Linked DNA regions of Homo sapiens. The protein of the gene in region 3 interacts with the protein of the main gene of each other region in a pairwise test. Each region holds a gene or a part of one and is shown on either strand. Other genes may lie near its edges. The genes, in order: TMEM207, CACNA1C, NSG1 and SLC30A4.

Region 1 (7,894 bases), on a different chromosome or scaffold from region 3:
ATCACAAACAGCATAAGACAGAGTGAAAAAGCAGTTCCAAAATTAACGTAAAGAAATAGCAATCGAGAGCCATGCAAAAGCTGAAAGAGCAGCACAAATTTAATAAGCAGATTGTTAACAATAAGAAGATCCACCAGAAGCAGGTGAATGGTCCCAATTTCTGCTGTGAAATACAGTCATAGCCTCCTGCTATACAGAGAGCATGGCTTTGAGTGTAACAGGCAATGAAGACTGAAAACAGCTGCTAACAGTAAGGGCTGCAAGCAGGAGAAGATAGTGCTGGGTGGAAGTGCTTTTCTGATACTAAATCACAATGAATTACAGATATTAATTATCAGTATCATTATTAATGGCACCTTCTCTTCATCTCCTGAATAGAATTCTGAGAACCATTAAGTCTATCGCACAAAAAGTGAAAAAATTGAGTCAATTGTTCACATAATTCATATCACAAGCACTTTGAAATAGACACACAGTACAGGTTAGAATTTTGGTCAGTTTGCTTGTATTTTAAACTGAGTTATACAGAAAACTGCCTCCCTTGGTCACTGTGATTTTTGAGTGTGGATGAAGCCATAGATGACATCATGATTCTTTTATGAACTTAAAGTACCCTTGAAACCTTAAGGAAGATAAATTCAGTGTGCAAAAATATCTAGAAATCAACTAGGCCTCTTATTTATTTAACAAAGCTGATCGTAATGAAAATTATCTTTCCTGTTTTCAGAAAAAAAAATGGAGCCATCTGCATTTACAAACCATTTACTTTTCTTCTGATTATAATGATCATTTGAAACTCAACTGGGCTTTTTCTAATGGCTTGAGCCTTTTTTATACTTTGAATTTTTTAAATGCGAAATAAAAACATGGAGTTTTTCGCTGTTTACTTACATTTCATCTTCTTCGCATGGTAGGTCCGAGAGCACCAACTGAAACACATGTTTAGAACAATAAAATCCAAACATCTCATCAGTCTAATCCTTTAATACAAGCAGCGCCTAGAGACAATGTGGGTTTATATCATTTCGTTTGCTTTTTTAATTAAAAGCTCTATAGCAGAGTTTATTGTTGGTACACAGAATTTTAATTGAAAAAATCTCTGGGTGGATTCTTAAGCTCAGCAGTGGCAGAAGATATATATTGTGAACCAGATTCCATTTCTACATACCAATATAAATGGATTTTACGACAATTTTTGTTTTTTCTATATGCAGATTTTGCTTGCTCTAAAGAGCTTTTGTGCACTTTGCATTTTTTGTTTTCATGTTGTAGCTAGAGGTCAGAGGTTCATTATTAGTGAGTATTATTTTCACGCAAAAAAAAACAAGTTCCAAGTACATACATGGAAACAGAAGTCAAGCCTATTAGCATTAATGGGCATTAAATATATATTCATGAAAGGGCGACTTTAACCTGCTCTAAGGGTAAGGTCCATTTAAGATCACATGACATTCCAGTTGAGATTTACAGTCTTCTCTTTATCAGAGAAGAGAAAAAAAGTAATCATCTTTGTTGCTTTGTTTGAAAAGTCCAATACTATAAGCATTCTAAAATAATGCTCTTAGTTATCTGCACTGAGTGTCATAGGTTACAACATCTCATATACTAAATCACAAGGAAAAAGGCACTTCTTTCTAAAGATCTTATTATCTATTTGCTTGCTTGACCCTTTGAACCAGGACTCCTTCCTTGTACAAGGAGAAAGTCTTTAAACGGCATTTATGTGTAGCTCTGAACACTTAGTTGATGAAGTCAGTTGAAGTATTTATTTTCCTGGACTATAACACGCAAATAAAAGTACAAGTAAGAAGTTACAAAATTTAAAGTGATAGACTTGGGAGTTCTGTGTGAGATGTGTCTTTTCCCCCCTTAATCCCAAAAGCATCTTCTTCAGCACCTTGTATTTACTCCACCAAGTTTATCTGGGCAAAGAGATTTGTGGAGTTGCAGATGGAGCCATGAATTGGCCATCAGAGAGCATGGTAATGAACAATTTATAAGCACAGAAAATGAGTTGCATTCTTTTTTGCTAGAATGCTGCAAATAGATTTGCATACTAAGTGAAAGGAAAATGAACATTCACATTTTGTCCATAAAGAAAGTTTATTTATGAGTAGATGAAATCGTTTGGGATCCAGCTTAACAGATAAACAAATAAAACCAGTATTTCACTTTCAAGTCACTTCCGTGTTTTTTCTGTGTGTTGTACCCTAGCAATAGTACACAGTATTAAATTATTAGCACCTCACTGCCAACACATTAGCTGTCAAACTTCCAGTTATTATGAAGAGGTAAGGAAAGCTATAATTTACTTTAGATCTAAATCTTTCAGATACCTTGCATTGAAGTCACACAGATCTAGAGATGCACGTGTTAGTCAGAAGGGGATGCTGGAGCAGAGGAACTGAAATAAATCCTAAAATGGTTCTGTCTACATCAGTCAGCATTGAAAAACTGTCAAGCATCAAGTATGGTTGTAGGCAATAGTAAACATGTCTTAAATTAATCTAGCCATAGCATTTTGTTCTGTGTCAATAGCATTTTGAATTTAAAAAATTACAGCATAGCAAAGTTAAACAAAGGTTAAATTTGCAATCACGTTATTTCAGTAGCAATAGAACTAATTGAAGGAGAAATAAGACTAATGCCTTGGACATTTTGTTTTGTCCCTCTGACCAGTGAATACAAGAAATCATAAGATGCTAGTAAAGCTTGAAGGAAATCTTTTAAATGTAGAAGCAGTTAAGTTGCTCACATATAAATCTATAGCAAATCAAGTCCTCAGAGTACCTCAGAGTACCTCTGAAAACCTTAACCCAGAAAGAGAGATAGTTACCTGGAATAGCGGCAAACACAAGATCCCTATCGTTGAGATCGCTGAGGTGACACTGAAAAGTCTGGATCTTGACATATTTAAAGGACAGTCAACTTAGGATAGTGGTTTGGTGCCTGTGTTTATTTCCTTCTTTCTCAGAACTTACTAGCTTCTCTATAAGTTATGCTTCCTACCAGGACATGCATTAATAATGGCTCCTTGTGACTCGTAAAGTGCATGCTAGGGGAAGGAATGTTGGGTACATGTTTACAGGTACTAAGAGCCCAAGGAATTTAAGTTTAAGGTGAGAACTTTAGCACTGTTTGTCAAGGCCTTTAAAAGTAGGGGTTATAAATGCTGACCTACAGAGCTAGCTGGCTACTTAATAACTTTCCACATTCAAGTGCATGTTTTATTCCAGGGAACTTCTGGGTTTCTAATAGTATTTCATATTTGGAACATTTATTCAATTTTCTTCCCTTTGTTGGTACTCTTTGTTCTCCTACACACCATTTTCAGTTCCAGGTCTAACCCAAACTTAGGCATAAAGCTTTCCTTGTTTTATTGTGATAATACCCCTCTTTTAAACAAGGTATATTTCAATGTTTATTTTATGAAACAACTCCATCACTACCACTGAAAAATAAAGCAAGAATATCTAGGGAAATTCTGAGAAAAAGAAAAGGCACTAACCTATTGTACATTAAGATGTCTTAATCTATGCATTTTACAAAAATTAGTACTGATATGTGTAAATAATAAGGTAAATGTAAAAGAGTAGAGAGTTTAGAAATGGAGAGTTTAGACTCAAATAAACAAATTTATTTAAGCTTCCATTTGAAACTAGTGGAGAGAAGATGGATATCTTTCAGGGTATAATGAAGAGCTAAATGGTTATGTGGAAAGAATGTAACAAATGATTGTTAAGATGCTTAACCTCAGTCATAATTAGATAAACATACCTTAGAATTATAATCAGATTGGCAAGTTCAAAAAATTGATAATATAGGGAAGAGGGATAAATACTGGGAAACAAATACTCTCATATACGGTTGGGAAAACTGTACAGCTTATTTGGAAAACAAGTAGGCAATATACATCAACATAAAAAATAAATATGCCCTTAGAGCAAGAATTCTCCTTGCAAGATACATGAATGTACCCCTTACACATGGCACAAATTACTATATGCAATGATGTTCATCGAAGCATTGTTGGTGTTAACAAAATATTGGAAACAGCAAATATTCATGAAAATGTGACAGACTAAGTACAAAATGGTTATATAAATTCAACAGAATACTAGGAATCTGTTTTAAAAGGTGGAGACAGATCACAGATGCTGATATAGAGAGGTCTGTAATAGTTATTGAATAAAAGGAACAAAAATCACAGAACTTTGTGTACATCATGTCACATTTGTATGCAAAAATAGGAAGGTAGAGCTATAGTATTCTCTCCGTACACAAAACTTATGCATATATACTTATATATGCATAGGATGTCTCTGCATGAAACTGCTAACAGTGGTTGCTCTGTGAAAGGGAAATTGCAAACTAAGAAGACCAGAGTGGGAAGGAAATTTACTTTTCACTGTTACTTCCTTGTATTTTTGATATTTTTTACAATGTCTATATGTCATCTAATTATTTTTTACATATATTCACTTCTAAGAGCCAATTTTGAAGGCAATGATCCACAATGCAGAATGAGAATATCGTAATTCAAGCTCCAGTGTAGTTCACCACATCCAATTCAAATTGTAATGTATGAACCCATTTACAATCACACACATAGATTGCTCTAGAAACAAACCAGCAGTATTAGGTATCTAAACTACTGCACAGAGTTGGCCATCGCGGTATATGGACTAGTTGAGCTGCATCTGGATGGGTGAAGCCGTCTGTGTGGTGACTACGCTCTGTTTAGTATGCAGCCACGGTCGCAGCCATGAATTTCAAAGCAGAGGAAGGCTTGGTGCCAATGCCAATAGGAGAAAAGTAAACCAAACCTACAGTATTATTTATCCCCCAGATACGCTCCATTTTGAGTGTCTCTGAAGCCTGTAATTAAACAGAATGAAAAATAGGCTTTTCACTGGTGAACTTATTTATTAGGCAGTCAGAAGCCTGACTTCCGTCGGTGGAGTCAATGATCTTAAGAATTTCTGGGAAAGGAAGAGGCCAGATGACTAGAGAAGAGACAGAATGGAAATAAGGGCAGCATATTTGGTTTTGCCTCAGAAACTGCAATAATGACCAACTACATACATGGATTAAGTAATTATTGTCAAAAAAAATGCATGATTCTGCAGCAGCTGCCTGATTAGGAGTATGGCAGCTGAATGGAGATGGAGTCTATAGTCACAATAGTAATGCAAACACAGCAATTATATTTGGTGCTAAAATCAAAATTTATATTCATTTCCACCTTGCCATTTATCCATTTACTTCTGTGACTTTCCCATGCCACTTCCAACGTCCAGCATAACAGTTTCTAAGACAGTAGTTTTTCTAGTACATTTCCTTCCTAGCATCATGAGAGTTTGGTGGTTGTGGAATACAAAATCTGACCATGAGTGCAATTTTACCTGCAAAATTTTTTTAATAGATACTTAAAATTAAAATAGCTTATTTTGTGATAAATTTAAATTCACAGGCAGTCTTAAGAACTACTACAGAGATCCCATATACTCTTCATTTAGCTTACCCCAGTGGTAGCATCTTACATAACTGTTATACATTATCACAACCAGAAAATTGACATGGAGGCAATCCACCATCGGCATGATTTTAAAAAAATTTATATGTACATAACAGTCGTTCATATTTATAGGGTACATGTGATATTTTATCACTTAAAATGTGTGATCAATTTTGTAAGTCCAACTACATCCTTATGTGCATGAACTTGTGGTAGTGAATTGTCATCACTGGAAAGTCAAGCTGAAGATGGTTGACTGCTATACATAGCAATATGGTCTCTTAGATCACTAAGATTCTAGGGACTTTTTATGTTTGATTATAAAAATAGAAGTAGGCAAAACTTGAAAAGAATCTGTAGAAGAAGAAAGAGGACATGCACTGTGATAGTGTATAAAATTCACCCAGTACTTGGATGGTGGACCTTTTATCTACATCTTTGTTACAAAAGAATGGACACACATATATTCAACTTCACAATTCTGGTTATTCACCTATCTCTTTTCTTTGTGAGAAGAGATTAATCCTTCCGAAATGGCTGGAGTTCAGGAAATATGAAAACTATCCTCTGGATTTGGAGCCTGACATAAGTCAAAATTCCCTGAAGCTCTGAAGTCATATCAATATTTGTCTTTAAAGGTCATGGCATGCAGCTCTTCGAAAGGATTGAGGACCAAAATTCAAGGAATTAAGCGAGAATAAATAAAAGGTATGAATAAAAGTGGGCATGCATAAAGGAAGGTCCAAAGAGCAAGCAAGGGATCACCAGCTACTCTCTTTATCAAAATTAAAGGCACAAGTTAAGGTTCTAGGAGTTAGGAAGCCTTGGTCACTAATAATCAGCAGTATGACAATAAACAGTTATTTATAAAAACTGCATTTTCTAAAATAATGATAATAATATTGAATTATCTTTCTCTAATAATTTCATTAAAGATCACATTGAAAATATCAACATGAAATCAGATATAGCACAGATGTAAGATGTTGATTACTGGAGCATAAAACACAACAAAATACAATAAAATAAACGAGAATTTCAAAATTAATTCAGAGATCCATGGAAACAATAGGAGTTGAAGTAATATAAGGAGGACATAAAATGAGGCAGCAAGCTGTCGGAGTCTCTAGTTTCTCCATTTGCTTCTTCTCCCTAGTGAAAGGAAATATTGATTACATTGCCAAATCCATGGTGAACTTTTAGTCATCTTACTTTAAGTAATGGACAACATTTGACACAGTTAATCACTTCTTGCTCCTTTACCTTCCTCACTTGGCTTCCAGAATGATATCGTTTTTGATTTGCCTCCCAGTTTGCTGACCATTTCTATTCAATTCTCTAGACCTGCCATGTTAGGAATTCCCTAAGACTCAGTTCTCAGACCTCTTTCTCTTCTGTATATATCCACTTTCTCAAGAATCTCAGTCAGTTTTACAGATTATCATCCATAAAGTGACAACTCTGAGATTTGTATCTTCAATCCAGATATTTCCCCTGAACTCATGAGATTAACTGTCAACTCCATGTCAGTTGGCTGGGGAGGAGATTGTTACGATATTTAATATAGCAGCTGAGGAAAACATTACTGAGAATGTGGCATTTCAGCAATGACCTTAAGGAAGTGAGGAAGTAAGCCACGTGGAAAATGTGGGAGGTGCATTTCAGACAAAGGAAAGATCAAATGCAAAGCTCCCTGAGACAGAAGAATGCCTGGGAAGTGTGTGGAAAAGCAAGAAGGCAGAGTGTGCCTAGAACAGACGGAGTTGAGCGGAGACTCTCAGTTGGCTGGGGAGGAGATTGTTGTGATGGCAGCTGAGGAAAACATCACATGTCACATAATGTCCATATCATCATTGGATATATTAGACTTCTGCAAAGTAAACTTAACCCAAACCTAGCTTCTCATTTTGCTTATCTCTTCTCTATCCTTTGTGTTTTCTCCAAATATTTCCTAGATCAGTAAGTTAAAGCCTTTTCTTTTTGTTTTTTCAGACCAAAAATCTTATAAATATTTTTTAGTTCTCTCTTTCATATGCCATACCTAATGTATCAGTAAATCCTGTAGTCTCAAATTTCAAAATATATACAGACCCCCAGCACTTTCTACTACCTTGACTAACAACTTTTTACCTAACTTACTCACCAACCACCTTCATATGTTACCAAAATTACTGCCAGTAGGTTCTTAGCAGGTACTTCTGTTTTTCCACTTGCCCATCTGCAATATACCCTCAATATAGCAACTGGAATGATTTTTTTTTTTTTGAGACAGAGTCTCCCTCTGTCACCCAGGCTGGAGAATGCAGTGGTATAATCTTGGCTCACTGCAACCTCCACCTTCCAGGTTCAAGTGATTCTCCTGCCTCAGCCTCCCAA
Region 2 (7,356 bases), on a different chromosome or scaffold from region 3:
CTATGATGGCTCACCCGCCCCCTTTAGTGATTAGCCACAGCAACCTCTTCCTTGTCAATATTCATTCTGTTCTAGGTCTGCCCTTCCCACCTCCACCACCCTCCTCCCCTCTCCTACCCCAACAACCTCGGCAATGCCAACCAACTAAAGAAGAGAAGATGGAGAGTAGAGGGGAGACAGGGATCTTGGTGCTCTTCCACCTGGGAACCGCATCTAGAAATGGAGGCAAAACTGCTCCCATGAATTATATAATCACTGCAGCTTCAAGGGAGAGAACTGGAATTCAGGTTGCCATAGCGTTTGCTGGCATGTTGCTGGAAAGGTAGAGCTCTCAGCCGCTGGCTCCCTTGCTCCCTTCCCCTCTACCTTTCTCAGGAACCTCTCTGGGGTTGGCACTCCTACTTTTAATGTCTGCTCCCAGCATACAGCAGGGAGATGCTGAGAGGCAAAGGGGCCAAAGAAAACAACCAGAGTAAGGAAATGGGTTCAGAAGGGGTTTATCCTGCACTAAGAGGAGACCTTGTAAACTAGTTAAGATTATCATCCTGTGAATAAGGTGAATAATCACTATTATTACCACAGTACATTGCCATTGACAGTGATACTTAGGGCAATACTACAGAGCTCTCCTCTTCAATGCTGCTTAGACTGAGGAGGTGGGTAAAGCACGCAGTCTCAGAACCTGGAGGGGAGTCATCTTGCATCCCCACTCTTCACAAATACCACCCTCTTTTGTGTCTCACTCCTTCCCTCCTAAACCATTCACTAGCCCATCAGCTACAGAAGGGAGAGGGGATCAGGTGAGGGATGGGGTCAACAGTAGAGAAATCCAAACATGGATACTGCCCTTGTGACCCCAAAGCTCTGGCTCACCCTAGAACCCATGACCCTTGACAAGATTCTTTCTTCCAAAGGAGGCCACAATCCCCAAGCTGCCACCCATGCTGGAAAGCAGAGAAGACTGGCCCCAAAATCGGTTTCAGGATAGATGGAGACCAGGCAGGCTGGATGGCAGCTTCTGGCTCTAAAGAGTGAAGGCCCTGTCCCCAAAAGGTGGAGCTGGGAGCAAACAGAGGGAAAAAGCTGGACAAAAAGACCTGGAGACAACTCCTTCCACCAGGCTGGTCTTCAGAGGATCACTGGGAAGAACCCAGGGAAGGAACAGAGACCAGCAGTGACAGATAGGCTTTCAGGGGAAGAGAAGAGGAAGAGTGCAAACAGGGAGGCTCTGGGAACTGGGAGAGAAAAGGGAGAGACTACACCCAAAGAGACAGAGCAGTGGCGAGAAGAAAGAGATGTCATGCCTGGAGGTTGCCAGAAAGCCCCGCTGGACCACCCTGTCTGCACCCCCCGTCCCCAAAACCTTAAATGCTAAGCAACGTCCAAGAAAACAACTTGTTAATATGGGGGGAGAGCGGTGAGGGAGAAAGTTTCCAGGAAGTAGGGAGTTACCTGACTGCCTTTCACCATCACAGGGGGAGCTGGTGACACTCGCGGCCAAGGATGGAGATGCTCGGAAAACACTGGGCAATAGTATGGAGCCGCGTGAGCCAGGCACACCCTTTCATGATCTCCTTCAAACACGAAACAGCAAAGCCCACACACCGCCCGGCTCCTCGCCGCTTCCATCCTCAGGTGCTAGCCCACATGTGGGTGCGAATGAGAACACACGCGGCGTGGGCGCGCTCGGGGTCAACAGCAGTGGAGAGGTGGGTGGGTGTAGGTGAGCGGCGGAGGAGGGAGGGAGAGAGGAAGAAGGGGACCTACAGAGGGGGAACCAGAGGGGCGCGCTGGGCTTCACATCTGCACCGCCGCCCCCACCCGCCACCTGGAGCGCGCCGCCCAGGGCAGGGGCGCCTGGACGAGAGTGGACGCCGGGCAGCGCGAGGGCGCCCCAGGGGCGGCCGTGGGCGCCGGGCTCTGCCGGCGCAGGGTGCGCGCGCGCGCGCTCCCAGCCGCGCCCCGAGCCGGGCGAGGGACCCCGGGCCTCTGGGCTCCGCGGCGCCGGCGCCCTCTGCCCCCCGCGCGGCTGGCCAGGCAGCCGGGCTCTCCAGGCGGACGCGAGAAAGCGAGGCGGCGGCAGCCACTTGGGGAACTTTTCCCCCCTCGCCTGGAATTTCACAGGAAACACATGCTCTGGAGAAGCTGGGGCCCGGAGGGGGAGGGGCGGGAATTTTCCGCTCCGTCTCGCGCGGCGGTTCGGGCCCCGGTCCCGCCGGGCTCCCGGGCGCTCCGACGAGGCGGAGGCGCCCCTCGCGGACGCGGCCCCGGGCCACTCCGCAGGGACCGGCCCCGGGGCCGCGGGGAGCGCGGGTAGGGCAGGAACCCGGTGGAAAAGGCAGGGAGCCCCGGCGAGGCGGCGGGGTCCAGCCTTACCTTGGTGGTTTTCCTCTGGAATGTACATCCTCGTATTCTCATTGACCATGGACCAAAAATGGTTTTAATAGGAGGAGCAGCCACGAAGAGGAAGAAATGTGAAAACACCCCCCGGCGGGTCTGGATTAATCCCTCCTCCGAGGCCGGCGGCTTTCGCGCAAGATTCGAGGAAGCCGTGGTCTGCAGCGTTTCTTCTTCCCCGCCGACGATTACCTGATTCCCATTATGGCATCAAACCCCAAAAACTGCTCCTTTCCACTACTGCCTCCTCGAGTGAAACTGTAACGCATCCTCAGTACATCCGGGCCCCTTCCAAGAACTGAGCACCGCACCTCCGGCGGCTACACCATTTGAAAAAATAAATCGGGAGAGGCAGGGCGAGAAGAGGCGGAGAGGAGGGGCGGGGGGCGCGCGGGGCCCGCCTGGGCCGGCAGGGGCCGAGGCGCCTCTGCCCACTCCCAGCGAGTCCTCCTGAGGCCCCTGCCCGGCTCTCTGCTGTCAAAGGGAGCCGGCAACTCCTGGGCGCGGAGGCAGGAAGAGCCGCCGCCGCCGCTCCGGGCCCGCCGCGCCGCGCCGAGCGCCGCTCTGGCAGGAGCTGTTTCTGCAGAGGCAGCGAGAGGGAGACACCGGGCGCGCGAGAGCGCCGCGCTCACTCCCCCCGGCCCAGCCCCGCCGCGCCCGCGCCCGCCCCTGCCCGCGCCGCCCGCCCGCCCGCCCGGCGCGCCGGAGGCAGACGCGCTGAACGCTTCCAGATGTGGCTGCGGCGGCGCGCAGGGAGCCGGGCGCACGGCGCGGGGCGCACGGCGGCGGACTGGAGCCCGAAGTCGGGCCCCCTCCCGGCGCCCGCGGCAGCGCCGCCCGAGCGAGCCCTCCGCCCGCATGACGTCAAAGGGAGCGGGCCCCGGCCGCCGGCGGGCGAGGGGCGGCGTGAGGAGCCCCCGGGGAGGCCGGGGCGCGCGGCGCACCCGGGCGCCAGCCGCGGTGGCCGCGGTGGCCGCGGCGCGGACACACCCCCTCGCGCCCCGCCGGCGGCGTCGCGCCCCCCGCGCCGGCCTGCAGCCCCCCGCCCGCGTTCTCTCCTCCGCTGCGGCGGCGCGTCCCTGCTGGGCCGGCCACGCCGGGAAGGCCTCTGTGAGCGGAATTCCAAGGAGGAGGAATACAATTTGCCCGACTACCAGAGTCTCGTTTCGGATCGGGCCACTGAACAAAACGGCAAGATGAGCCGTGATTCCGTGATTCTGTTTGATCAATTATAATCAGAGCGGTTGTAGAAGTGACAGATAGAGGAGGGGAGGGGAAGCGGGAGGGGCAGCGAGGCGGAGCCTGGTAGGCGAGGCAGCGGTGCCCAGATGTCTGAACAGATTCCTAGACCCAGGTTTAATAATTCCTTGGAGGCAGCCGAGCACGTGTTCTACTAGGATATCCTTACCTACTTCTCTTAATTATTTCTGCAACTCCGGCAGGAATCTATCCAGCACCTCTCCTTCCCGGAGAAGCAAACACTTCCCTCCATCACTCCCTGCAACCACAGCAAGTTCCACGGCACCCCCTGCAGGACCGGGCTCCCCTCCAGTGGGGCTTCGTGATCCCTTTCAGGGGGGCCTACAACTCCCTCTTGGGGAAAACCTCTACCTGCCTCCACATAAGACCTCCTCGCCTCCACATCCACCCTCATTCCCTGGGTGACCCTAACCATTCCCGTGGCTTTCAGCAGCTGTCTATATCAAATGTCTATCTCCAGCCCAGACCTCTCTCCTGAATTCCAGACTACAGCTGACTCCGTCTGATAGACATTTCAAGCCTAATACATCCAAACACTGGATTCCTGATCTCTTCAAAGCCTGCTCCTCCTCACACAGCCTTCCCCATCGCAGTCGATGACCATCCCATACTTCTAGTTGCTCAGTTCAAAATCCTGGAGTCACTCTTGACTCCTTTCTCTCATCATTCCACGTCTAGTCCATCAGGAGATCCTGTTGACCCTACCTTCAGGTGAATTCAGAACCTGACCACTTCTCATTTCCTGCACTGCCACCACCTGGGGCTGAACCAGCATCCTTCACCCAGGTTTCTCCTGTGGCTGATCCCCCTGGTCTACCTTCCCTCTCCCCTCTGGTATTTTCTCAATACAGCAGTCGGAGTAACCCATTTAAAACATCACATCCCAGCACTCCTCTGCTCAAAACCATCCATGGTTACCCATTTCACTTAGTAAAAGCCATGGTCCTTGTGGTGACCTACAGGAATGGCTGAGTACAAATCCCCTTACATCATCTCCTACTGCTGTCCCCCTCACTCGGGATACACTAGCCTCCTGGCTGGGCCCCAGACACTCCAGGAATGACCCCTCAACACACACGCACATTGTAAGGCCTTTGCTCTAGCTATTCCCACTGCCTGAAACACAAACTCCCTCGGCTTCTTCAAGGCTTTCCGCAAATCTCACCTGTTCAGTGAGGCTCACCAGGACCTCATCCTGATTCAGTACTGACAGACCCCCACAGCGCTCCCTATCTCCCCTTACTCTTACTGAAATCCTGTCTAACATACTATATAGTTTACTTATTCATTAACTTTATTGCTTATTGTCTGTATCCCCCCACTAAAATGTAACCCCCATGAAGGCAGGTGTCTCATCTATTTTGTTCACCAGTGCCTAGAGCAGTATCTGGCAGATAGTAAGTACATAATATGTATTGAATAAATGAGTGAGTGCCTGAGATACTTTCAGGAGTGTTGCAATTCCCCCTATGAAAATGCATCTGTCCGTCCCTTGGTACCTGAAACCTTACCACTCCTGTTTCCTTCCTTTGTCCAGTGGTTCTGGCCCCAGTGTAAAATGCAAGTGCCCCTGGGAGAAGTATTAAGCTGTTTCGGTCATCTTCATTCTAATGTTAATAGCGATCTCAATTTTGTTGGTTACAAGAGAAATCTGGCCTCTTTGCCATTCTGGTGTGTTCATACTCAATTTTCAACTTAATAGAGAAAATTAGAAATGACACAAATTCAAATATTTCGCATTTACTTTAGGATGCATTATAGGCCTGTGTTTCAGAGGCTGCTGTAGCTGATAATTTGTTTAAATGAATAGTAAAATTGGTTTGCATCCCCTTTACACACAAGTGCAGGAATAATAATAATAGCTAACACTACTGAGTGCTCTGTGCCAGGTACTGTGATAGGCCCTTTACAGCCTTTATCTTATTTAATCCTCACTGCGATCCAATAAGCTATGTGTTATCGTCATGATTATCCCCATTTTACAGATATGGAAACTGAGACTTCGAGACTTGAATTACAATGTCCAGGGTCACCCAGCTGAGTAAATGTGGAGCCTGGACTTAGCCCAGGCATATCTGACACCAAACTCAGTCTCTACTATTATCTTACTCATTCTTCTGAGGGGTGAAGTGTGGGTGAGCTGGTGGGGGCAGGGCTGCAGGGAGATGAACAGGGTGAAATGATTGCAAAATATGCTGCAGATAATTCACAAAGAGCCAAGTCACTGGGAACAGAGTGTATGTGTGTTAGGGGGTCACGTGCAGGATTTATAGCCCAGCTTTTCTAAAGGTAGGCACTGTATAAATCTAGCAAGTAAATATTACCTCCACGCTTCTTTAGTTTCATTTTTCACTTCTCTTTTCAGCTGTGAAATGTGTTCTTTCCTTTCCAGAAAAAGGTATTTCCTAAATATTTGGTCTTGCAGTATACGCCCATATCCCAGCTTTTAACTTTGGAACACAGCCCTGGGTGTGCTCTTTCGAGGTAACAAATTCTCAACATGACAAAAGGAGACCATTGTGAATTCCGATTTGGGGATTTGGGAGGTGGTGGGAGCAGAGGAGGGAGTCTGCATTTCTCTGTCATTGAATGATTTGATTCTCCAGCTAAAGAATCTCCCATAGGTCTTCATGTGTGCCCTCTTTCTGCATAGTATTTTGCTTATATTTGCATGAGCCTTTTTCTCTCCTCTTCCTTACTACATTTTAGGTGTCTTCAAGAAGAGAACTGTGTTTATTCTTTGTGCATAACATAATGCCTTGTACATATGGACACTCAATTTGTGTTGAGTGCATGATTCACTCTGGAAAAGATTTTTAAATGTGACCACAGATATTTTCTTTGGAAGCAATTAAGAGTGCACTGAATTTGTTAATTACAGTATATTTGTAAGAGTGAAAACCTGGAAATGAACTAAATATTCAACAAAAATGTTGGTTAAATAATAACACTGAGAGATTATTCTAAGTGCCTCACATACATAAAGTCATTTGCTCCTCCAAACAACCCTGTGAAGGAATTGCTTTTATCCACATTTTACCGGTGAGGAAACCAAAGCACAGAAACGTTTACTCACTTGCCCATGTTTCACAGCCAGTTGATGTTGAAAGACCTGGGATTTGAACCCTAGCAGTCTTCAGAGCCTACGCTCTTAACCACCGCATAGATGAACTAGAGTGCATTCATACAGTTAAATTCTACATAGACATGAACAATATTAAGGAAGAATATTAGTAACGTGGAAAAAGATGATTTACATTAAAAGAAAAACAAGTCACGAAAATATTACAGGCACTATGATTTCATTTTCCTTTTAAAGTCAGGTTTATATTTGAACTAGGGAAAAGACTAAATAGGGTTCACACCAAAATGTTGACAGTATCCTCAATCTGGGGCAGGTGGGGAAAAAAAGTGTTGACAGTAGCTGTCTTTGGGAGGTGGGATTACACGTAAATGTTTCTTCTTCTTCTTCTTCTTCCCTGTCTGGTCCAAGGCTTGAAAAGCCAGGTTGCCAAGCAGGCTCTTCCTCTTCCCTTAGCACACACACACCTCTTGACACAGAGCCCTCCCCCCACTGCCTAGCCAGGGACAACACTGCTAATCAATCTCTTCAGAATAAGTCTCCCATCAAGTCTGCAAGGTGTCCCTTCTATTTCTCTCCCTCTGCCCACCACAACAGCCACTCAGCACTAAATGCTG
Region 3 (7,020 bases):
TCTCCACCCAGATGGGTGGTGCCCCTCCCTCCTTACCAAGATGCCAGAGTCAGAGGGGAGGGAGTAGTCAATCCACACCGAGCCTGCCACATTGCAGGGCCGTCCCACCCCGACTCAGGAGTCAGCACAGGGAGGGGTGGGGGGGTCTTTTTCCTCGTTCTCTATGCCACTTACTTACTACAGTGCACCTTGGCAGCAGTCAGCACTGTTACCCGCTGATGGCCGAGGAAGAAATGCGAAGTAGGCTTGCTCTTAGCACAGCGAGAGATCACTCTAGATATGGCTATGGAGGAAGGTTTGCAGACAGCAGGGTCGGTTCAGAAAATCAATTCCACAAAATGCATTTATCTGAGATCCAAACCCTTCGCATATCCAGTGTAAATTTATTTTTTTACAGCATCCAATAAATCCCAGTAAAGGAGCTAAATGAAGATCTTAACATGAAAAGTGGTGTCAGAGCTCTTTAGGCAATGCTGAAATGCACTTGATTTTATGCCCGTGGGTGGTCGGCAGCAAGTTTTATTTGCAAAGCAGCATTAGCAAACAGAAGCAATTGCACCGTAAATGAGTAACCTCTAAAGTATCAGTAATTATATTTAATGAAATGTCCCTCAAAGTCCCTTTGTTATTTGCAAGTGACACATTGTAAGGAACTTGCCCATCCCGCTAAGCTGACTTCTCAGCCGCTTCAGTCTCCTGCTCGGACAGCTTCTCTTCTGACAGAACTGACATCCAGGGCGATACGGAGCGCGTGATGCTCTGCTTGGCCAGGTTGTAGTGGTTTATGACTGTGTAAAATTTCTCCCGGGCACTGGAGTCTTGCTCCGCGTAGTAGCTCTCCAAGCCTTCTGGGATGCACTGGGTGTTCTGAAAGACAAGAGGCCACTGAGAGCACGCGTCGGTGCAAGAGGGGGTGCCAGTGTGTCTCCAGTTGGCAGCCAACAGTTACTGAGCACCTTCCCTGAGCTTGGAGGAATAGATACAGTGATGAGCAAAAACGGGCATGGATCTTGCCCTGAGAGAGCACAGCACAGGGGAAGCCTGGCCTTGATTATTCTTAATAGACTGGCTGGTGAGTGCCATGGCAGATGGGCACTTGGGCTCCAAGGGTGCCAGTGTAATGGGACAGCAGGCCTTACTTCACTGAAGATCTTGCACTAGTTGTCATTTTTAATCAATTGGAAAACAACAACTTATGAAATATCCCAAAACAACCAATTCAAATGAGGACGGAAGGGAAGTGAGAAGAGCTTCCCTTGAGCTAGGTTCTCAGCAGACCTTAGCTAGGTGAGATGAGGGAGGGGCAGCACTCAAGGCAAAGGAAACCAGAGCAGAGAGGGGCCTTGGGGCGGGAGTCAGAAGAGGCACACAGAGCCACTAGGTGGTCATGACTAGGGGCTGGGAAGATGGCGAGGGGGTAGGGAGGGGCCGTGGGTTGGGGGAGTGCGAGACAGCACTTGGGTCTTACAGAGGTTTATCAGGAAGCGGATTCTGGCAGCAAATCCACACCCCCATTCCCTGCAGGCCAGGCCCTGTGGTTCAGGCAGGGCCGGGGGCGTTTTCCCTGTTTTGGCAGCTGTGGCTGCAGCCTGTCCTTGAGGTGAGTGGCTCACCTCCACGGGCTTAAGGCAGGTGTACAGGGATCAGCTCCTGATGCCACCCAGCCCCCATGGGGAATCCATTCTCTGTTACCAGCTCATTGAACCCTGAAGTCTAAAGATGAGAATACTTTATACCTGCAAGGCCCTTGTGAACAAAGAGCTATTTTCAAAAGAGAAATGACAAATGGAATGTGCTTCTCACCAACACTGCCCCGCATCCAGTGTTCAGGGGCTGCCACTGGCAGGAGGGCGGCGCTACAGGAGAAGGGAAGCTTTGGAGCCAGGCCCACCGTACCAGCTGAGTTCACGTGCGGAGTGTTTTCTCTCTCAATCTCAGGTCCCTCACCTATAAAATGCGGCCAATGAGTCACACCACCGTGTTGCTGAGGACTCAAGTCAATGCACAGTGGCTCAAGTAAAGAAGCCAGGATGTGCCCCAGGTCACAGTGTGGACAGAAAAGAAAGCCAAAAGACACCACTGAAGTACAGCCCTTTTATCAACAGCGTCTTGATCTCAGTCCCACCAGGACGTCGGGAAGCACCTGACACGCTACAGAACAAACAGCCCATTCAGACCAGCAGCGCGTGCATCAGGAAGGAGGCTCTGCAGGCCAGACAAACTCCCCTCCAGCCTCACCGCCACGCCCCTTCACGCTGTCCTCTCCATCTGCTGCTCGTCATCCCTCAGGGAAACGGACCAAGGGTTCCCCTCTTCCCTCCCACCTCGGCACCCAGCAGAGTCCTGCAAGACCTGATGCGGCCAACACCTGTGGAGTGGCGGCCCCGCTCAGGGCTGGCATACGAGATGGCTCAGAAACGGCCCTGCCCTACAGGTGCCCCGCCCAGGGAGAAGGACAGATGGAGTCCCCAGATGCCTCCCAGACAACGTGGCTGCCCAAAGGCAAGGCTGGGGAGGCACCTTGGTGCCCATGGTGGCGAGCACCCCAGGGGGTGAAGGGCTTCCCAACGGAAGCAGAATGCAGAGGCCTTGCCGTGAGCCCACATGGGCCAGGGAAGGCTTTCTGAGAGGCTCCTGCCGCCCCCCATACCCATCTCATACAGAGCCACCCTCACCTGTGGGGTGTGTGCCTTGAGGGGAGCGTGACTCAGCTGGGCCTGCACTTGGAGGAGCTTGGGGAGGTTCCCCAACTTCTCTGGGCCTCATTCCCTCACCTGTGAAGTGAAGCTGATGACGGACCTGTCTTGTGGGGCACGGGAGGACTGAGGTAGCTACGTAAGTGTGTTCCCAGCACCCAGCACTCAGTCAGCACTGGAAAAGAGTAGCCACTAAGGTCCGGGTGCGATGGCTCATGCCTATAATCCCAGCACTTTGGGAGGCTGAGGGTGGATCACTTGAGCAAACCCAAGAGTTCGAGACCAGCCTGGGCAACATAGCAAGAACGTGTAACCTGTCTACATGAAAAAAAAGAATGGCCAATATAAAGGGAAAAGCCAGTATAAAAATGTGGGATTTGGGGCACTTTCCCCATTATGTTTAAAACTTTTTTATAAAACATGTAGTAATTTCATGTTGTTGTTGTTTTTTTTTAAAGGCAGAGGTAGAAACCTAGTGTCCTCTCGGGCCACGTCTGCCTTTTTCACCCTCCTCACGATATGCCTCAGCTTGGGGCCACTGGGAGTGGCTGTCCAGAAAAAGCCTGTCCCCTCCCCACTGCCTGGGGCTCTGAGGTCCCTGCCCTCAAGGTGTCGAGTCCAGTGTGCACATAGTAGGAGGTACTTAGTACATGCTGACTGTACCAAGTGAACTGAAGGGCGTGACCTTGGGCTCCACGAAGAGCCTCTGTACACCCTCTAACCACTGGTAAAATGGGGATATAACAGCATCCACCTCAAAGGGCTTCTGGATGCATTCTGTGAGCAACAGGTGTAAAAGTCCCACACAAGCTGCCTAGCGTTGGTGTGTGACAAACACACGCACAAATATGGAGGGAAGAGGTCAAGGGGACTTCATGAGCTCATGCCTCTCCTTTCTCCAGCTTCGGCCAAGGGCAGCTGGATACAGACCAGCAGCTCCCTGGCCTTCCTAGGTGCCTTCTCCGGAAAGGACACCCCCTCATTAGATGCTAGTGGAAAATGCCAAAGTCCCACAGGACATCACTCCAGAACAACTTATCAGGGGACTCTCAATTCCCAAGGCTGGCTGTGGATGGGAATCACCTGGAGCGCCTTTTAAACAAAAGGTGCCAGGCCCCTTCCATTGTGGCCGCCAGTCTCATCTGCAGCCGGACACAGGACTGGGGCTTCATCTCCTGGGTCATCTCCCACCCAGGCCAGGTATCCAGCGGGACTTGGGCTTGCAGGATAGGGAAGGCAGTTTTAGCCACCCCCTCCTCCCTGTGGGGAACCTGCTCCAGGCTCAGAGAGGATGAGCCAGGAAGGAAGCTCCAGGGCAGCTGGTGAAGCCACTGGCCTCAGTTATTTGTAAGTAGCCAGTTTCGGTGGGGACTTCCGGCCCCCAGGAAGCTGTCCTCTGCTGTCCTCTCTCCGGCTCAGGGCCAGCTCCTGGGCCTGCCCGTGCTCCCTCTCCATGACATCGGCCTCCCTCAGTAACTAGCTCTGCACCAGGCCCTTTCCTTTTACCCCTCTGCCTCCCAGATTAAATCAGTTCTCCAGTCTGCAGTCTCCCCTCCATCCCCAGCGCCCCAGTCTTCTCTTCCCTCAGCCACTGCAGCAGTCTCCTTGGTCATCTCACTGCCCCGTCTCTCCCTTCCAATCTCCAGCCTCCCCAGGTGACCCAAGAGGTCACCCTATCACTTCCCCCTCCTCCAGGGGCCTGTGCCTGGCACTCAGGATGCACCCGCTCTGGCCGTAAGCTGGTTCATCCTCTGCCGCCTCCCTGTGCCTGTGGCTAGCCCCCCACCAGCACACCCCCACCAGCACGTCCCCACTGCCCGCTGCTCCCTCTGTGCTCCTCTACCATCACAAACCCCTTCCCACTGGGTCAGGGCCAGCACTGCCCTCGTTCCCTGAAGCCCGCACCCTCCGCTTCTGCTTGTTGTAAAGCCCTGGTGTCCTCTCAGCCTCCAAAACAGACTCAAACTCTCCCAGCCCCAGCCTAGGGCGTGGACGGGGCTTGCTGAATAAAACATGAGTGAAAGGGTGGGGGCTTTCCTTGGCTGGGCACACTCCCCCAAGACCCGCAAGCTCCCTGGCTCACCTCCTGGAGACCCGCTCCTCCAATGTGGACCATCCTTCTAGAAACTACCGCCCACATGCCCATGCCCAACCCCTGGGCCCTCTTTCCTGTCTGTCTATAGCCTTCACATTCAGTGTACGACTGACTTCCTCACCGTTCATTTGAGAATGTAAGAGCCTCGTGAAGGCAGGGGGCTGTACCTGACTGGCTCTCGGCTGTGTTCCAGCGCCTAGAACAATAGCAAGAGCTGCTGGCACGGGGTGGGTGCCATGTACATGCCTGCCCAAGGGAGGAAGAGCTGAATGTCGGGAGCCTGAAGGACAGCATGATGTGCAAGGAGAAAAAGGGACTTGGGCTGGACAACGTGAATTCCAGCCTTTCCTGCTAATCGCGTAAGGACTCTCTGCGTCCTCATATCAGCAAAAAACAAAACCTAAATGAAACCCAAACCCAAGCTACCCAGTGACAGCTGCCAAGCCAGGCTTCCCTGTGCACGTGCTCAGTGCTAGAAACAGTTGGCTTCTCCTGCTTTATTTTAATCTCAGCAGTGCCAAGCCCTGGAGATGAGCATCTCACACTGACTCTGGGAAGTTCAGAGCCAGCTACTGAGTGTATGGATAACGGGAGCCCACAGCTACCGAGTGTATGGATTCCGTGAGCAACAGGTGTAAAAGCCCCACACAAGCTGCCTAGCGTTGGTGTGTGACAAACACACGCACAAATATGGAGGGAGGAGGTCAAGGGGACTTCATGAGCTCACGCCTCTCCTTTCTCCAGCTTTGGCCAAGGGCAGCTGGATACAGACCAGCAGCTCCCTGGCCTTCCTAGGTGCCTTCTCCGGAAAGGACACCCCCTCATTAGATGCTAGTGGAAAATGCCAAAGTCCCACAGGACATCACTCCAGAACAACTTATCAGGGGACTCTCAATTCCCAAGGCTGGCTGTGGATGGGAATCACCTGGAGCGCCTTTTAAACAAAAGGTGCCAGGCCCCTTCCATTGTGGCCGCCAGTCTCATCTGCAGCCGGACACAGGACTGGGGCTTCATCTCCTGGGTCATCTCCCACCCAGGCCAGGTATCCAGCGGGACTTGGGCTTGCAGGATAGGGAAGGCAGTTTTAGCCACCCCCTCCTCCCTGTGGGGAACCAGCAAGTGCGTTTTACAGCCACACGCGGCATAACAGCATTTGGGTCAACGATGGACCACATGCCATGGTGGCCCCATAAGACTGTCACGGAGCTGAAACCTCCTGTCGCCTGGTGACCTCGCAGCCACCGTGTAGACGGAACACAACACACTCCTCACTTTGCGGAGGTGCTGGTATACACACACCCCCTGCACTGTCAGCTGTATAAACGTCTTGCACATACAATTACATACAGAACATAATACTTGACAGTGACAATAAACGCGTATGTTACTTGTTTATGTTACCGTACTATACTTTTTAATCAGTATTTTAGAGTGCATGCCTAGTTATTAAAAAAAAAAAGTTAACTCTAAAAGAGCTTCAGGGAGCTCCTCCAAGAGAGATTCTGGAAGAAGGCAATGTTTTGTTTTGTTTTGTTTTGTTTTGTTTTGTTTTGTTTTGTTTTGTTTTTAGACGGAGTCTCCCTCTGTTGCCCAGGCTGGAGTGCAGTGGCATGATCTCAGCTCACTGCAACCTCCGCCTTCTGGGTTCAAGCGATTCTCCTGCCTCAGCCTCCTGAGTAGCTGGGATTACAGGCACCCGCCACCATGCCTGGCTAATTTTTGTATTTTTAGTAGAGACGGTGTTTCACCATGTTGGCCAGACTGGTCTTGAACTCCTGACCTCAGGTGATCCACCCACCTAGGCCTCCCAAAGTGCTGGGATTACAGGCGTGAGCCACTGCACCTGGCCTGGCATTGTTATCCTAAGAGATGACAGCCCTGTGCCTGTCACTGCTCCTGAAGACCTTCCAGTGGGACAGGGTGTGGAGGCAGAAGGCGGTGATACTGTGGATCCTGACCCTGTGCAGGCCTAGCTAATGTGTGTGTCTGTGTCCTTAGCTTTAACAAAAATGTGTTGGAAGTAAAAAAAGAATTAAAAAATTTTTTAATAGAAAAAGCACATGTAGAAAAATAATATACAGTTGTGCAAGATGTTTGAGCTTTAAGCTAAGTGTTATTACAAAAGAGTCAAAAACTTACATTTTAAAAGTTTATTGGCTGAGTGTGGTGGCTCACGCCTGTAATCTCAGCACTTTGGGAGGCCGAGGTGGGTGGATCACCTGAGGTCAG
Region 4 (7,883 bases), on a different chromosome or scaffold from region 3:
TCTTAATGATTTTTACTTAGGTGAAATAAACTCTGAATTATTAATCATTTTAAGGGGGGATGCTGTGATTGTTATTTTAACTTCAAATATTCAACGTTAACTTCAAAAATCATTAAACCTGAATGACTCAATATTCTAGTTGTGTTAGTTTGGGCAAGTCACCGAATCTCAGTCTGCTGAGACCATGGTGCTTTATCTGGGGCACAGGTTGTCTCCTGTCTTTTAATTTCTTTACAGCTCAAGCATTTATAATTATCTAACAGAATAAAAATGAATTAATTCAACAAGTTTATTGAGTATCTACTTTGTGCCAGTCACTGTTCTAGGTGCTAGGAATTCAGCCTGTATTTCAGTGGAAACAGGTAATATTAAATGAGTAAATAAATAAGATATCTCAGATGCTGAGGACTTTGAAAGTTGGAGAGGGAACAGGGAACAAAAGAGATTTACTTTAGTCAGTCAGAAAAGGTCTCTCAAAAGTGTGGGTTTTTTTAATTTTTATTACTTATTTATTTATTTATTATTTTATTTACTTATTTTTTTTTGAGACGGATTCTCACCCTGTTGCCCAGGCTGGAGTGCAGTGGCGCAATCTCGGCTCACCACAACTTCCGCCTCCCGGGTTCAAGCGATTCTCCTGCTTTAGCCTCCCAAGTAGCTGGGATTACAGGCGCCCACCACAACGTCCGGCTAATTTTTGTATTTTGTTTTTAGTAGAGACAAGGTTTCACCATGTTGGCCAGGGTGGTCTCAAACTCCTGACCTCAGGTGATCCACCCACCTCGGCCTCCCAAAGTGCTGGGATTAAAGGCGTGAGCCACTGCACCCGGCCGGGGTGTCTTTTTAAATAAGACACGAATGACAAGAAACTGGCCAAGAAAAGATTTGGGAAAGGCAGTCTATGTAAAGCAGTGTTTTTCAAGCTAAGGCCCTGACCTACTGCAGTGGACACACGAAATCCATTTAGTGAGCTGGGACCACAATTGAAGAAACTATTAGGATACATCACATGAAGGAAAACTTTTGTTTCAGTTATACATATATTTATACACATGTGACCTGTGTATATTCTCATACATATGTATGCATGCATGCCTAAATGAGTCACAATGTGAAGTGTATTTCTTACTACAGTGAGGTCAAAAAATGTTTGAAAGCCACTGAGATAGAAGGACCAGCCACTTTGAACGCCTTAGAGGCAAAAAGAGCTTTGTGAGTTGTAAGAGGAAAAAGAAGACCAGCATGGCTGAAGCGAGCCCTGGGGAGGAGTGTTATGAAAGAAGGTAGGAAATGTATATAATTTTTCCCACATAGAACCCTCCAGTCAAACATCTTAAATCTGGACTGCCACCTGTTTTTGTCATGGTTCATCATTTAAGAGATGACATGTAAGAATCATCTCCCTGCTTTTATGTCACTTTGTAAACTGTCACTGAGAAGTTAGTAGTTATACTGACGTGATTGAAAATAACCTCTAAACTAAGAATGTATCTTATATTGAGAACGGATTGTTCGTATAATTAAAAAATGAACAAGAAAACCAGGCTCATAGAACTTTGGCGGAGTCCTCTGGTTCATTTCAGGCCCTTCTTACGAGGCAAAAATTTCATGTTAGTTGGTAATTAATTTTGCAAATCTCTTGGCTATAAATACAAAAGGAAATCGTATAAAAGAAACCACTTAGGTCAAATGTAGAGGAAAAAAATGCTGGGACTGTAGATGTGGCTCTTCCATTAACTCCCTAAGTGGCCCTCACGACTTATTCCACTGGTTTGTGCCCTGGAAATCCTTACATGTAAAAAAAAAAAGGAGGTGGAGCAGGTGTTCAGTAAGGTCCCTTCATACTGTAAAATTCTATGATCTTAAGTTATTTACGATCATTTACTATTTTAAACGTTGCGAAAATTAACCTGGTATTTTACCAGACCTTTGTAAAAAGAGGAAGTTACATGACATACAATGAAGATAACGTCCTTAACTTTACGGTAGATGACAGTGGTTGAACAACTAGAAGAGAAAGTCAAAGTTATCTCGGGGAGTTTATATTGTACTTAGATTGAGCTGCACTTTGGAACCGTGTGGCCTTTTCACATGAGATCAGTGTCTTGATAAATACAAACTTCCTGAAAAGATGGGTTAAACCTCAAAGCCTGTGTAACTACAGCTTGACAAAGACTCTCGAGGAAAGGTAAACGGAAAGTGAGTTGGCAACACAACTCACCTACAAGTTCTCCAATCATGAAAAGCAAGTACAGAACGGCAGCAATGGTCAACCTGGCTTTCACCTTTCTCTGCTTCAGTATCTCTCTCTGTTTGCTGCAGTTGTCACAGGAGTCCACCTTCAAACTCAGCTGACTGTTGGTCAAAGGTAAGTCTTGGTCCAGTAAGGAATCATCGTCGGCCTGGAGGGTCGGGTGCGCCCCGTTAACAGGCCTTTCCGGGGCTTCGGAACCGTCATCGGCCACCACAACTCGAAGTTTGTTGAACCGAGAAAGCCCCTCGTCCCCCGCCTCATCCGAGAAGTCAAAGGCGCTGGTGTCATTTAAAAACAGCGGCGCATCATCCTTCCTTAGCATAGATTTGAGGCGCTTCCACGCGCCAGAGCCGGCCATGGCAGAGGCTGAGCGGCCGCGGTGCGGAACGGCTTGGGGGAGGCGGACGGCCGGCGGCGCCTACTTCACCGGAGCGCCAGTTCTCGAGGGCAGTGCCGCGCGTCCCTCCCCATCCTGTGGAAAACGAAACACGTTATAAATTAAAGGCGCCCAACCCTGTCCTCAAGTTCCGAAGCCGCTGGCGGCGGGTCGCAGGGCCGACCCCGACGCTCCGCCGGGGCTCCGCGAGGGGGCGGCACATCTATTTAATACCTGGGGCGCTGCCGCGGGGCCGCAACTCATCTCCCCGCCCCCGGCCGGCTCAGCGAGGCGGGCTCGCGCTGCTCCACCCGCGGCCGCAGGAGAGTGGGGTCGTGCTCGCGCCCGCCGCGCCCGCTGCTGGAGGCCGGCTCCCCAGGTCTGACAGGTTCGGGGCCGGACGCCCACAGCCACCGCCTCTCCCCGCCCTGCGCGAGGCCACGCGCGTGCGCCGGGCGAGGCGCGCGAGGGAGGGGTCGGCGCGAGGACACGCAGGCCTGGCGCGCAGGGCTGGGGCGCCCGCGATGGGCGGGGGCGCGCGGCGCGCCCCGCCTCTCGCCCCGAGGCTGGATTGGGGGCCACTGCGCCGCCTCCGCCCAGGGGTCACTCACTGGCCAACTGAGGGGACTTTGGGCGGCCTCTTCCACCTTCCCAGGCTGGGAGGCAAGTGCGGTCGGAGGGTCACGCCGGGGGCTGGGCGTTGCTGCTAGGAGTTCCCTCCACCGAAAGTGTGTCTCAGGAATCTCGGGTCGGGATCTGGGTTGCGGGTGCTCGGCAGAAGACAAACCCAGCACTTTTCTTGCTAACTGAAAAGGCAAGCAGCTTTTCTCTCCTCGAATTGCTTGTCTCTGGCAAATTGGCAACATTTGCTGCAGTCAACTGGAGAGGGCAAGGCTGTCGTCGTCAGCAGTTCTGTGTCCTACTGTTTTTCAGCAAATATGTATTGTCCTCTTTGTGCTCTCTGCCGTGTTCCTTTTGCCTCCAAGGTATTTACGATATGGACTAAACTCAAGCATAGAAAATCTAGTACAGGCATACCTTGGAGATACTGCGAATTTGGTTCCAGACCACCGCAATATGACAAAGTGAGGTCTCACAAATGTTTCATGTCCCAGTGCAAATACAATCATGTTTATAATGTAGTCTATTAAGCGTGTAATAGCGTTATGTCTAAAACAATGTGCATACCTTAATTTAAAATATTGGGAGAGAGGAAGGAAAAAGTATATATACATTTGTTAATTGCTCTGAGGAAGGAGGGTCGCATGAGCCCAGAGGTTCGAGATTACAGTGAGCTATGATTGTGCCTCCGCACCCCTGCCTGGCGACAGAGTGAGACCTTGTCTCTAAAAATAAACAAGTAAATAAAATACATGACTGCTAAAAAAATGCTATCAGCTGGGCGTGGTGGCTCACGCCTGTAATACCGGCCCTTTGGGAAGCCGAGGCGGGCGGATCACCTGAGATGGGGAGTTCAAGACCAGCCTGACCAAAATGGAGAAACCCTGTCTCTACTAAAAATACAAAATTAGCTGGGCATGGTGGCGCATGCCTGTAATCCCAGCTACTAGGGAGGCTGAGGCAGGAGAATCGCTTGAACCCGGGTGGCGAAGGTTGTGGTGAGCCGAGATCACGCCATTACACTCCAGCCTGGGCAAGAAGAGCAAAACTCGGTCTCAAAAAAAAAAAAAGCTATCAATCATCTAGGCCTTTAGCAAGTCATATTCTTTGCTAGTTGGAGGGTCTTTGCTCCTTGTTAATGGCTGCTGACTGATCTGGATGGTGGCTGCTGAAGGTTGGGGTGGCTGTGGCAATTCCTTAAAATAAGACAACAATGACATTTGCTATATTGATTGACTTGTTTTCATGAAAGAGTTCTTGATGGCGTGTGATGCTGGTTGATAATATTTTACCCACAGTGGACCTTTCAAAATTGGAGTCAATCCAGTTTTCTCAAACCCTGCCTCTGCTTTATCAACTAAGTTTATGGAATATTCAAATCCTTTGTTGCCATTTCAACAGTGTTCACAGCATCTTCACAAGGAGTAGATTCTATCTCAAGAAACCACTCTCTCTGCTTATCTATAAGAAGCAACTCCTCATCTGTTCAAATTTTATGAGATTGCAGCAATTCAGTCACATCTTCAGGTTCCACTTCTAGTTCTCTTGCTATTTCCACCACATCTACAGTTACTTCCTCCATTGAAGTCTTGAATCCCTCAAAATCATCCATTAGGGTTAGAATCCACTTCTTCCAAAATCCTGTTAATATTGATATTTTGACCTCCCATGAATCACGAATGTTCTTAATGGCATCTGGAATGCTGAATCCTCTCCAGAAGTTTTTCAATTTACTTTACCTAGGTCCATCAGAGGAATCAATGGCAGCTATAGCCTTATGAAAGGTATTTCTTCTTTTTTATTCATTTATTTTTATTTTTAGATGGTGTTTCACTCTTGTTGCCCAGGCTGGAGTGCAATGGCGCGATATCGGCTCACCGTAACCTCTGCCTCCCGATTTCAAACTATTCTCCTCCCTCAGCCTCCCAAGTAGCTGGGATTACAGGCATGTGCCACCACGCCTGGCTAATTTCGTATCTTTAGTAGAGATGGGGTTTCACCATGTTGGCCAGACTAGTCTCGAACTCCCGACCTCAGGTGATCCACCTGGGTCGACCTTCCAAAATGCTGGGATTACAGGCATGAGCCACCGCGCCCGGCCAGTCACCCAGGTTTTGTTCCATTTATAGAGCACAGGTAGAGTAGATTTAGAATAATTCCTACGGGCCCTAGAATTTTCGGAATGGTAAATGAGCATTGGCCTTAACTTAAAGCTACGGGCTGCATTAGCCTCTAACAAGAGAGTAAGATTGTCCTTTGAAGCTTTGAAGCCAGGCATCAACTTCTGTCTAACTATGAAAGCCCTAGGTGGAATCTTCCAATAGAAGGCTGTTTCCCCTGTATTGAAAATCTGTTGTTTATTGTAGTCACCTTTAATGATCTTAGCTACACCTTGTGGACAACTTGTTGCAGTTTCTCCATCAGCATTTGCTGCTGCTTCTTGCACTTTTATGTTATGGAGATTGCTTTTTTCCTTAAATCTCATGAACCGACCTCTGCTAGCTTCAAACTTTTCTTTTTTGTTAAAAAAATTATTTAATTTATTTATTTTTAAATAGAGACAGGGTCTCACTATGTTGCCCAGGCTGGTCTGGGTATTTCTAATTTCCTTCAAGAACCTTCCCATTTCCCAGAGTCAAGTGATAAAAGTTTAATACAAACAAACAAACAAACCCAAACAATAAAAAAGAACTTTTCATTTGCATTCACAACCTGGGTAAGAAAAGGCATAGTGCAGGGCATGGTGGCTCACGCCTGTAATCCCAACACTTTGGAAGCCTGAGGCAGGCGGATCACCTGAGGTCAGGAGTTCGACACCAGCCTGGTCAACATGGTGGACCTCTACCATAGTAGAGACAACCCTGTCTCTACTAAAAATACAAAAATTAGCTGGGTGTGGTGGCATGTGCCGAGTAGCTCCCAGCTGCTTGGGAGGCTGAGGCAGGAGAATCGCTTGAAGCTGGGAAGCGGAGGTTGCAGTGAGCCTCGCACCATTACACTCCAGCCTAGACGACAGAGCAAGACTCCGTCTCAAAAAAAAAAAAAAAAAAAGAAGAGGCATAGCTTTCAGCCTATCTCAGCTTTCTTTCTTTTTTCTTTCCTTCCTTCCCTTCCCTCCCTTCCCTTCCCCCCTCCTTTCCCCTTCCTTCCTTCCCCTTCCCCCCTCCTTTCCCCTTCCTTCCTTCCCCTTCCCCCCTCCTTTCCCCTTCCTTCCTTCCCCTTCCCTCCTCCTTTCCCCTTCCTTCCTTCCTTGCCTGCCTCCCTCCCTCCTTCCTTCCTTCCTTTCTTCCTTCCTTCTTTTCGTCCTTCCTTCCTTCTTTCCTTTTTTTGGAGTGCACAGGCACAATCATGGCTCACTGAAACCTCTACTGCTCAGGCTCAGGCAATTCTCCCACCTCAGCCTCCCAGAGTGTTAGGATTATAGGCGTGAGCCACCATGCCCATCCTTATCTCAGCTTTCCATATGCCTTTCTCACTATGGTTAATAATTTCTAGCTTTTGATTTAAAGTGAGAGATATACAACTCTTCCTTTCACTTAAACACTTAGAGGTCATTGTAGGGTTATTAACTGGCCCAATTTTAATATTGTGTCTCGTAATAGGGAGGGCCAAGGAGAGGGAGAGTGAAGGGGGACGGCTGGTCAATGGAGCAGTCAAAACATATACAACATTTATCAGTTAAGTTTGTCATCTTATATGGACAAGGTTCGTGATGTCCCCAAATAATTACAATAGTAATATCAAAGATCACTGATCACAGATCAGTATATCAGATATAATAATAATGACAAGGTTTGAAATATTAAGAGAATTACCAAAAGGTGACACAGAGACATGAAGTGAGCCCAGGCTATTGGAAAAATGACGGCGACAGATTTGCTTGACACAGGGTTGCCATAAACCTTCAATTTGCAAAACTGGCAATATCTAACAAGTGCGAGAAAGTGAAGCACAATAAAACAAGGTGTGCCTATAGAGGTGTCCTTTTGGCTATTGGGTCTGTTTCACAAAAAAAACAAAAAACAGCCAGATGCAGTAGCTCATACCTGTAATCTCAACACTTTGGGAAGCCAAGGGGAGAGGATCTCTTGAGGTCAGAAGTTTAAGACCAGCATGGGCAACATATTGAGACCCCGTCTCTCCAAAAAATTTTTTTAAAGCCTCCAAGGAATTGGCGGTTGCAGTGAGCTATGATTGTGCCAGTGTACTCCAGCCTGGGTAATAGAGGGAGACCCCATCTTTAAAAATCAAAACAAAACAAAACCAAAAAAAGAGGAAGAAGAAATAATTGTGGCTTTTTTGTTTTTTGTTTTTTTGAGACAGGGTCTCGTTCTGTTGCCAAGGCTGGAGCGCAGCGGTGCGATCTCGGCTCACTGCAGCCTTGACCTCCTGGGCTTAATCTATCCTCCTGCCTCAGCCTTTTGACTAGCTGGGACCATAGGTGCTTGTCATCATGCCCGGCTAATTTTTGTATTTTTTTCCTTGTAGAGATGGTTTTTTGCCATGTTGCCCAGGCAGGCCTTGAACTCCTGGGCTTAAGTGATCCTCCTGCCTCAACCTCCTGTAAGTGCTGGGATTACAGGTGTGAGCCACCATGCCCAGCCAATATTTAAATTCTGTAGTAGCTTCTGA

What was found.
Region 1: the proteins of NSG1 (region 3) and TMEM207 interact in binary tests that used the Homo sapiens proteins (3 or more experiments, as listed by UniProt).
Region 2: the proteins of NSG1 (region 3) and CACNA1C interact in binary tests that used the Homo sapiens proteins (3 or more experiments, as listed by UniProt).
Region 4: the proteins of NSG1 (region 3) and SLC30A4 interact in binary tests that used the Homo sapiens proteins (3 or more experiments, as listed by UniProt).

What each region holds. Positions count from the first base shown.
Region 1 is NC_000003.12:190,446,899-190,454,792, forward strand, and holds the start of TMEM207 (transmembrane protein 207 precursor), read right to left. Parts: upstream 3,004-7,894; 5' UTR 2,912-3,003; coding exon 2,837-2,911; intron 930-2,836; coding exon 892-929; intron 1-891.
Region 2 is NC_000012.12:2,048,632-2,055,987, reverse strand, and holds the start of CACNA1C (voltage-dependent L-type calcium channel subunit alpha-1C), read right to left. Parts: upstream 3,002-7,356; 5' UTR 2,426-3,001; coding exon 2,377-2,425; intron 1-2,376. UniProt on the Homo sapiens protein: Pore-forming, alpha-1C subunit of the voltage-gated calcium channel that gives rise to L-type calcium currents. Mediates influx of calcium ions into the cytoplasm, and thereby triggers calcium release from the sarcoplasm.
Region 3 is NC_000004.12:4,411,082-4,418,101, reverse strand, and holds part of NSG1 (neuronal vesicle trafficking-associated protein 1), read right to left. Parts: intron 868-7,020; coding exon 667-867; 3' UTR 1-666.
Region 4 is NC_000015.10:45,519,743-45,527,625, forward strand, and holds the start of SLC30A4 (probable proton-coupled zinc antiporter SLC30A4), read right to left. Parts: upstream 3,014-7,883; 5' UTR 2,865-3,013; exon of another isoform or gene 2,727-2,864; 5' UTR 2,613-2,726; coding exon 2,222-2,612; intron 1-2,221. UniProt on the Homo sapiens protein: Probable proton-coupled zinc ion antiporter mediating zinc import from cytoplasm potentially into the endocytic compartment. Controls zinc deposition in milk.